Regions from separate parts of the Homo sapiens genome. Here region 1 is linked to region 2. The links come from fine-mapping of genetic effects on gene expression. A gene starts in region 2. The other region holds a variant in brackets. All regions are shown on one strand. Distances are between the middles of the regions. Region 1 overlaps C3orf22 (chromosome 3 open reading frame 22). Region 2 holds the start of CHST13 (carbohydrate sulfotransferase 13).

The links. PIP is the estimated chance that this variant, and not a neighbour inherited with it, causes the effect.
Region 1: its variant is fine-mapped to the expression of CHST13 in whole blood (INTERVAL, PIP 0.95).

Annotation. Positions count from the first base shown.
Region 1 is chr3:126,546,009-126,550,393 of GRCh38, reverse strand. It overlaps C3orf22 (chromosome 3 open reading frame 22), which reads left to right. Exons shown (of 4, transcript NM_152533.3): 4 at 316-702. The coding sequence ends at 526. Among named protein-coding and RNA genes, the nearest start is that of C3orf22, 11 kb to the left of the region's middle. RefSeq lists enhancers at 1-440, 441-1,322. The variant G/T (reference allele first, on the strand shown) is at 2,006.
Region 2 is chr3:126,522,051-126,526,435 of GRCh38, reverse strand. It overlaps CHST13 (carbohydrate sulfotransferase 13), which reads right to left and starts at 2,281. Exons shown (of 3, transcript NM_152889.3): 1 at 2,007-2,281. The coding sequence starts at 2,103. RefSeq lists enhancers at 894-1,394, 1,395-1,895, 1,956-2,456, 2,457-2,957.

The sequences.
Region 1 (4,385 bases), 24 kb before region 2:
GCAGGACTTGAGACCACGTCCCCAGCCACTTATGGGCTGGGGCTCAGGAGGCACTGGGGAGGCTCCTAGATTCTGGCTTGGATGTCAGGTGGCTGGAGGAGCCTGTGTGGGGGGGTGAGTGTGCGGTGCCCCCATGGCTTCCTGGGACATCAGGTGGCAGAGCCTCTGTGTGGAAGGGGCCAGGTCAAGCCTGGTTGGGAGTAGATCTCAGTTGGAGCCCTCCCAGATGTGGCCCTGGCTGACTTCTCTGGGCTGCAATGGCTGCAGCCAGCAGGGGTCCTGAAGGCCAGGCGTGGCTCTGTGTGGCTTCTCTAGGCTCGGGGCTCCAGATTTTACATCACCGTCTGGCTCCTGCCCGGCACCACTACCAGCACCATCACCACCTCCACTGTGCAACCTTTGGGAACTCAAGTTGCTGAGTCGCCGCTTCCCCAGACAACTCGCCTTCCTGCTGTCCACCCGGCACACTGAGGCTGCCTGCCCCCAGACCAGCAAGGCGGCAGGGCTGTCCAGGGGCCTCTCCTAGAGACTGGGCTCTGTGTGTGGCCTTCTTATTGGCCACCTTCTCCTTGGCAGGCTCTGGGCAGTAGCCACAGAGACTTTAGTAAAGGGATCAGCCTTCATGGCCATCATAGACCGGGAGTGGTTTGTGGTCCCCCCAAAAAGCTACACCAAGCTAATAAACTGCGAGTTCCCACCCCACTTCCAGCTGGAATGATCACTTTGCCTCCCTGAGCCTTCATTTTCTCATCTCTAAAATTGTTGTAATAATGTTTAATCTTGCAGGGTTGGTGTGAGGATTAAAAAGAGCATGAATGTCACTTCTAGGACTTTATCCCAAATGTACACTCACACAGGTAAGTAAATGCTGTTCACTCCAGTGCTGCTGGAAACAGCAAAGGATTGGAAAGCAGCTAAACTGTTTGCTAAACACTCACAGGAAACTGCTAAATTATACAACTACTCCCGGAAATCTTAGGCAGCCATTCAAATGTAGAGGCAGCTCTTTATAGACTGATCTGAATGATGTACAGGTCTGTTACAATTTTTGTTAAAAAGCACAGCAGAAGAGTGTGTCTGATATGCTGCCATCTTGTGTTTACTAAAAACGGTGTGTGTATGTGTGTGTGTGGGGGGGGGGGCGTGGATGAGGAGCAGGCAGCAATCATTACCTTTGAGGAGGAGAATGGGGGACCTGGGGACAGGACCGAGAGTGAGGCACACCATTTTGTGGGTTGTCATACATGAGCCTAATGCCATATTCCTGTATTACAACATCAGTAATGTAAGGAGCGTGGTGTGGCTGCTGGAGGCTGGTGATGCCTTTGTAAAGCAAGACAGCAGCACTGGGCAGCGGGGTGCCTGCTGAAGATTTAAGGGTCCCCCCACTGTGTTCTACAAATACAGGGGCTAGAAAGTCACCTTGGAGTTCCTTGGGAGGGTGAATAAAATCAGGACACTTTGCAGCCTTCTCCCTGGAGTGGGATGTGGCTTTATTGTCTTCTCCCCAGGTGGGCAAGTGGCTTTATTGTCTCAGAAAGGAAGTGAAGTGAGGACCCTTGTGATGAAAAGATTGAAGGGGGTTGGCTTCCCAGGCCCTGGGGGCAGGACAGGGGTGGGTTCCCAACCTGCACGAAGCAGACCCTGGAGTCACATCTGTGGTGTTTGGGGAAGGGTGACCGGGCTGCACTGTGCCGCCCCAGCCAAGACTCCAGGCTCCCTCCCCAGGTGGGACCCCAGGTCCAGGCAGGGGACTCACAGCATTTGCCTGGGGATAGAGTACAGCTTCCAGCAGCACCCACAGACCTGCAGGAAGCAAAGATCCCTGGGGTCCCTTCCTGTGAGGGTGGGAGCCAGGCTGATCTTCATTTGGACTGTATAAGCTTCGAGGAGGTTGTCTCTGAGGTTTAAGCTATGCACTGTTTGATATAAGCAAAATACAGCAACGCATGTTTACCATGCAGCATAACCAGGGACACGAGACCCACTCTTATCCCTGCTGGGT[G/T]CTCCTTCCCCCACTTCACCACACCCTGAGTCCCTCGTACCCTGCCCATCAGGTCACCACATCTTTCTCCCCACTTAAAAAATGTTATAATTTGGCCAGACATGGTGGCTTACGACTGTAATCCCAACACTTTGGGAGGCTGAAGGCAGGTGGATCACTTGAGCCCAGGAGTTCGAGACCAGCCTGGGCAACATGGTGAAACCCCGTCTCTACTAAAAATACAAAAATTAGCTGGGCATGGTGGCATACGCCTGTGATGCCAGCTACTCAGGAGGCTGAGGCAGGAGAATGGCTTGAACCCAAGAGGTGGAGGTTGCAGTGAGCTGAGATCGCACCACTGCACTCCTTGAAATAACACATTGTTTGCTTTTTTCAATTATATAAGACTGTGTCAAACTCTGCAACTTTTTCCCCTCCACAGCAAGTTGCTAAGAGTCATGTGATGATGATGCTACTGCTGTAGTTCCTTCATTTTCCACTGTTTCTCATTCCATGATGTGTCCATTCTCTTTTGGGTAGATGTCTGGGTTGTTTCCACTTTGTGCTACTGTGGGTGCTGCTGCTCTAGGCATTCCTGTCCCTGTCCCCTGGGGTGTACTGTCTCCCCTCCCCAACCCATGATAGGATTTGCTGGTTGGTTGGTTGGAGGGCTCCTGAGCACCTCCTTTATCAGCTCTTGCCAGAACAATTTCCAGAGAGTTCCCAGCCTCTCCAGGTTCCCTCTGGTCCACACCTGCACTATAGGCAGGGCCCAGAGCTTTTGGGACTGGAGCAGGAGGGGTCGCTGGCTGCCTGCTCTTCCACTCATGATAGCAAAGCTGGTGGTGGTTTGTAGAAAAAGTTGGTAACTCATTACCTGAATCCAGAGTCAATTATAAAAACATACATGGTCTGTAATTCGTGCCTCCTCTCCTGGGCGTTTAAAGGAAGAATCTGAGGGCAGCTGGGATGTGTTTGCAGCCCCTGCCTTGTGCACTGAGTTTAGGTTTATGTGCATGTTATTCCTGCAAAGAAGAAAATGAGCCCCCAGGAAGCTGCACCGCATGGAAGCCCTTGCAGAGGAGCGGGTGACAGCTGAAATGTTTGACAGGAGAGAGATGGTGCAGCAATACTCTCTAAGCACAGCTACTCCATAAACTTTAGAAATGCTCACACAGTGGCCCAGATAGCAACATGGGCCCTGTGCCCTGCATCTCTGAGGCCATCTGGGTCCCCATGTGCCCTTAAGCTGTGAGCAGTTACAGTCAAACACAGATCCACAGGTAGAAAGGATGAGGCACGGTGGAGGTGCATTGGGGAGTGTGGACCCTCTCCCAGGAGTTTATCCTGCAGTCACACTCACACCTATGCAGGAGGAGGGTATGCAACAACATTCATGTCGGCACTGCCACAGAAAAGGATCCAAACTAACCTAGCATTTAAGACCAGTGGAACAAAAGCAGCATGTCATCATGGATTTATGGTTGATTCCCTCTTTGCCTCAGTCCCGCAGAACCAGCTCTGGAGGCAAGGATGGAGTGTGAGTAGTTTTTGTGAGAGGCAATCCCAGTTAGCCCATAGAGAAGTAGGGAGGAGACAGGGAAGGGACGGAACCAGACAAGGAATGTACCCTTGAGCTGGCAACCACGGCTTAGTCTGCTGGGACCACCGTAGCAAACACCACAGGCTGGGGGGAGTTAAACAATGTTCATTTTCTCCCAGTTCCAAGGAAGGCTGGACGTCCAAGGTGAAAGTGCTAGCTGCCTTGGTTCCCTGATGGGGGCTCTCTTCTCTCTTCTGGGCTTGTAGATGGCTGCTTTCTCCCTGTGTGAGAGGGAGAGGCGGGGAGGGAGAGAGAGAGAACTCTCCAGTGGCTCTGCTTATGAGGACACTAATCCCACCATGGAGACCGCATCCTCATGACCTCATCTCAACCTGATCACCTCCCAAAGGCCCCATCGCCAAATAGCATCACATTGTGGGTGAGGGCTTCCACATAAGACTGGGGAGAACATAATTCAGTCCACAGCAGCCACTGAGGGCATTTGGTGCCCAGTCCCCGTGGGGAAATCTGGGGCACCATGCAGATTGTGTCTCAATGTCCTTCATGCAGGGATAAAAGCTGGAGCATTTATCGCCCGACTTCCAACAGATGTAGGTGAGGACTGCTTCCAGGGGGCACTAACTCCTGCACACCCAGCCTTCTTGTGCCCAGGCCAAGAGGCCTGGTGGTCAGAGGGAGACTGCGGGAGGGTTGCAGATGCTAGGGAGCGCATTGAGGCACCCGACCTAAAACTGGCTGTCAGTTCCCAGACTCCCTTGCCACTGGGAATACAGTGGGCTAGGTTCAGGCCAATGGCATTGCACTGGAAATGGAATGGACTGTCCAGTTTGTGTCTTT
Region 2 (4,385 bases):
CCCTCATCCCCAGGCCAGAAGCCCTCACAGGGCACAGACCACATCCCTTCCAACTCAGGCATGGCTGCAGAGACACTGCAGGCCCTCGTGAGGCCATTTCCAGAGGCCAAGGGCAGGGGATGCCCCTCCAGCAGGACTAGCCTGGCAGGAAAAGGCCTTTCCCAGCTGAGTGCCCTCCCTGTGTGCCACCTGCAGGCCCACAAGCATAGTCTCAGCCAAAGCTTCAGCTCAGGGCTTGGGAGAGAGAAAAGCCAGTGTGAGAGGCTGGATAGGTTGGTCTGATTAACTCTTGCTCGCCCAAGGTCACTCACAAAGCTGTGATGGCTGGAGACAGGCCATGGGAGAGGTACAAGAGCGCTTGACAGAAACAGAGAGAGATGCTGAGATGCTGGGTGAGGTCATGGCCAAGAGCAGGACAGGCCAGGTGGAGAGCCCAGCCTGCGCAGAGGCTGGGAAGGGAGGTTCGGAGCCGTCCTCCTAACACCTGCTGTCTCTTCCCAGGCTCTGCAGGAGAGGGAGGGAGGTCAGAAGGAACAAAGCCCAGAAGGTGACTAGTACCTTGGTTTGTTTCTCATCCCTCAAACCTGGGTAGAGTAGGTGACAGGAGAGAGGTGTCCCACGGAGACATGGGGACGCAGACACTCCATGCAGTCACTCAAAGATGTATGCTCCTTTGCAGACACTCCCCGGGACCCAGGCACTCAGGTGTCCTCTAACATCCCACGCTGAGCCCTGAGGGGCCAGTAGCCACCAAGTTCTGCCCTGTCTTAGTACTGGGTAAACATCTGTCTACTGAATGACTCGGTGGACAGAGGCTGTGGCAGCCACAGACACTGAGTCCACACCCCAGACTGCCAGGAGATTGTCTGCTCAACACCACCAGACAGCTCACAGAAGGGGTTGTGGGGGTGCTGGAAAGAGACACCCCAGCCCTATCCCATGGGCTTGGGGAGGCATCCAGGTCTGACCTGCTGTGTCTGGACACACAAGGGGCAAGGGGCAGTGTGAGGGTCAGGGGGAGTGGGCAGAGGCCTCCCCAGGCCCTGATATCCTCAAGTCTTGGGCCACTCCCACCCCCACTGCCCAACATCCCCGCCCACCCTGGACCTAGTTACTTACTCCCTGGGACTGTGTCTGCCAGGTTCCAAGGGTGGGGCCCAGGATTCTCAGAGCCCACACTGGGGGTGGGGAGGCGGACTGAGTCGTCCCACCCAGCACGCATACCACATACAAGGAAAGGCAAACAGCCCTGAGGTCAGGAGACCCGGGCGCTGGCTGGGCCCCTCCAGTCCCAAGTAGATTGTATAGCCAGCACGTTGCCACCACACCTGTCTCCCCACTCTCTGGCCCGCTTCAGATTGTGTGAAATGGGTTGATGGGAGGCTTCACATGAGCTGAGGAGAGACTCAGAGCAAAGACTCAGCACCGGTGGAGCCCAGGGCACTCAGCTCTGCGGAGTCATGACTAACTGCCTCAGTTTCCCCAGCCAGACCACGAGTGGGTGCACAGGAGTCCCAAGCCCTACCCAGTGTGGATTTCAGGGTGGAGCAGGGAGTGGCACCCACTGCACAGTAGGACAACCAAGGGACCGGACCGAGTGGCCCAAGCTTCCCCTCCTATGCGCATGCGCCCAGCAGCGCTCATGTCCAGGGGCCGTGGGGTGCGCAGGGGAAGGGGGTGAAGGTAAGGGAGATGGCCTTCCCGGATTGGCCAATTGTCCTCTACCCCCCACAACTGACCCCGGTCTCCAGGCACCGGCTGTGGGACTCAAAACAGTCACCGCTCTGGGAGTGGGGAGGTAACTCCGGAGGAGGAGCAAGAGCCTTTGCTCGCGGGGGCGTCTAGAGCCTTTCTGTGCCTCACCAGCGCCCCTGCCCGCCACCCCTAGCCCCAGCCAGGAAGGAGACAACAGGTGTCCCCCGCGCTGTCGAGGGGTCAGGCCGCGGTGGAAAGCGCGAGGAGCCAGGTTTGGTTGGGGGTGCGCGGCTCGGCCGGCGGGCACTCACCCGGGCGCAGGGAGCGGGGCGCGGCGCATAGGAGCAGGAGCGCGGCGCCCAGACAGGCGGCCGCCAGCACGCGCCGCCGGCAGCAGCGCCTCCCCATGCTGTGCCGGGCGCGCGGCGGAGGACAGTCCGCTGGATACGGCTGGGGGCGGAGTTGCACTGGCCCAGGACCCGGCCCCGGCAGCGCAGCGCCTACCAAGACGCGCGGCGCGGCGCAGGGCAGGGGAGCACGGCAGCTGGACCCCAGCCCCACCAGCCCCTGCGAGTCGCTGGGGACTGAGGAGGCGGGACACGGTGGGGCCGCAAGCCCGCTCCTCTTTTCGTGCCCCCACCCTCACCCAATGGAATGGGGCCGAAGTCCAGGGCGCTAGGGCGGAGACTGATTGGGGAAGCCCCTCGCCTCTGGGCCCCGCCCCTAGGGTTTGCCCAGGGGTGCCATTATCCACCCAAGGCCAAGAGGCATTGTCGCGGTGGCGTGCCCCACCCCGGGCGGTGTCCCCTTGCCTTTTTGCTGCCTTAGATGCCAGGGGCCCAAGGGCTGATCTGGGATGAACCAAGGAGCCTAGTAGAGCGTTGCCCTGTCCATGGCTCTCCGGGACCCCCGCCCTCAGTAAGAGGCCTAAGAGTGTCCCTCCCTCCCCGACCCAAGGCTACCCTGCAGCCTTGCTTTCCTCCAGGGTCTCCAGGTCCTGCCTGAATCTAGCTCATGCAGGTGGCACTAGCCTTTGCACAGAGAGGTAGGGTCTCAGCTTACATCCCCCGGGGAATGGAGCTTGTGCCTCATCGTGTCACCCACAACTTCTCTGGGCACCACGTGAGCTCTGAGGACTTGCCAGGGACTGTGTGTGTGTGTGTGTGTGTGTGTGTGTGTGTGTGTGTTGGGGGGTGGAGGGGGCGAGGTGAGAGTAAAGTCCAGCCTTTGAAAGACACACACATCCAGCTAGCCCTGTGGGCAGGAGCCCACGTCTAACCGCAGGGTCTTGCTGCCCAGAAGTCAGGCTAGCAGGGAACGGGAGGGTGCAGCTGGCACTGGGTGCGCGGATGAGTGCGTTGGAAACAACATTTAGCAGTGTGAGTGCATGGGATAGGGTACTACATTACACTGTAGGTTTTTTTTGGAGTTTTTTGTATAAATGTAAGGGACACAAGTGCAGGTTTGTTACATGGAGATATGCAGTGGTGAGGTCTGGGCTTTCCGTGTAACCATCACCTAAATAATGTCCATTGTACCCATTAAGTAATTCCTCATCCCTCCCACCTCGCTCACTCTCCTACCCTTCCAAGTCTCCAGTGTCTATTATTCCACACTCGAAGCTCCAGTTGTTAAACTGTTCTTGAAAAATGTGGTGACTCCAAACCCACCTGGTGCCGCTTACTGCTGTGGGAGATTAGGAAATTAACTGCACCTCTCTGTTTCCCATTTTCCTGTACGGGGGGATAATCCTAAACCTCAGTGCTGTGAAGATTAAATGAGATACAGGAAATGTTTGCAACAGTGTCTGGCACTCAGTGAGTGCCAGGTAAGTATTTGATATTAGTAATTAATTTGTTTATGGTTACTGCCTGTTTCTGGCAAGTGGCTGGTTTCTGTTAAAGTGGTGAAATAAAAATTTCTCCCTACTATATTTATTTAAGTTGTGGAAGATCTATTTAAGGAAGAATATTAAGCAAATAATAGTTCTGCTGGTTTTGAGATACAGCTTTAAATGGTGATGATGTTCTCAAAGGACAGGGGTGGGAGTCCAGACTCACAGTAAGCTAGAAGCTTCTTATCATGACTTTTCTGGCCTTGGGGAACCTCTAGCCCACCCCCAGACTGGCCCAGGACCCAGGGATTCCAGGTCATCTGCATTCCCTGCCGGACCTAACTCGCATCCAAAGGTGCCTTCCAAATTTCCCCAGACCGGCATTCCCTGGCCTCACTGCCAGCCTGGAATCCTCAGCGCGCTTTGCCCTTATATGCTGCCACCTGGTGGCCAAAGTTGGGAATAACATCTCAGCCCTTCATCCGGAGATGTCCCTGGAAATGGGGTCCCTGGAGAAAGGAAGAGATGGTCTTGGGTCTTGGGGTGGGAGGGTGCAGATGCCTGGCTAGACGCCCGGGGCCTAGGGAGCTTCCCTGCGAAGACGCCCTCTCCCAGGGACTCGCATTCATTCATTCATTCGACAGATACAGAACACCCACTCCGTGCTGAGGCCTGGGTGGAGAGGGTGAGACCCATGCAGTGTCTGCCCTCACAGCATTTCCATTACAGATTGGAAGCACGGAAAATCAGGATAGAGAGATAGAGCGGTGAATGCTGCTGTGAAGAAAACACAGCGGGTACCAGGATGAAAAGTGTGTCCGGTGCAAGGAGGGTGCCGGGGCAGGCCTGGGGGAGG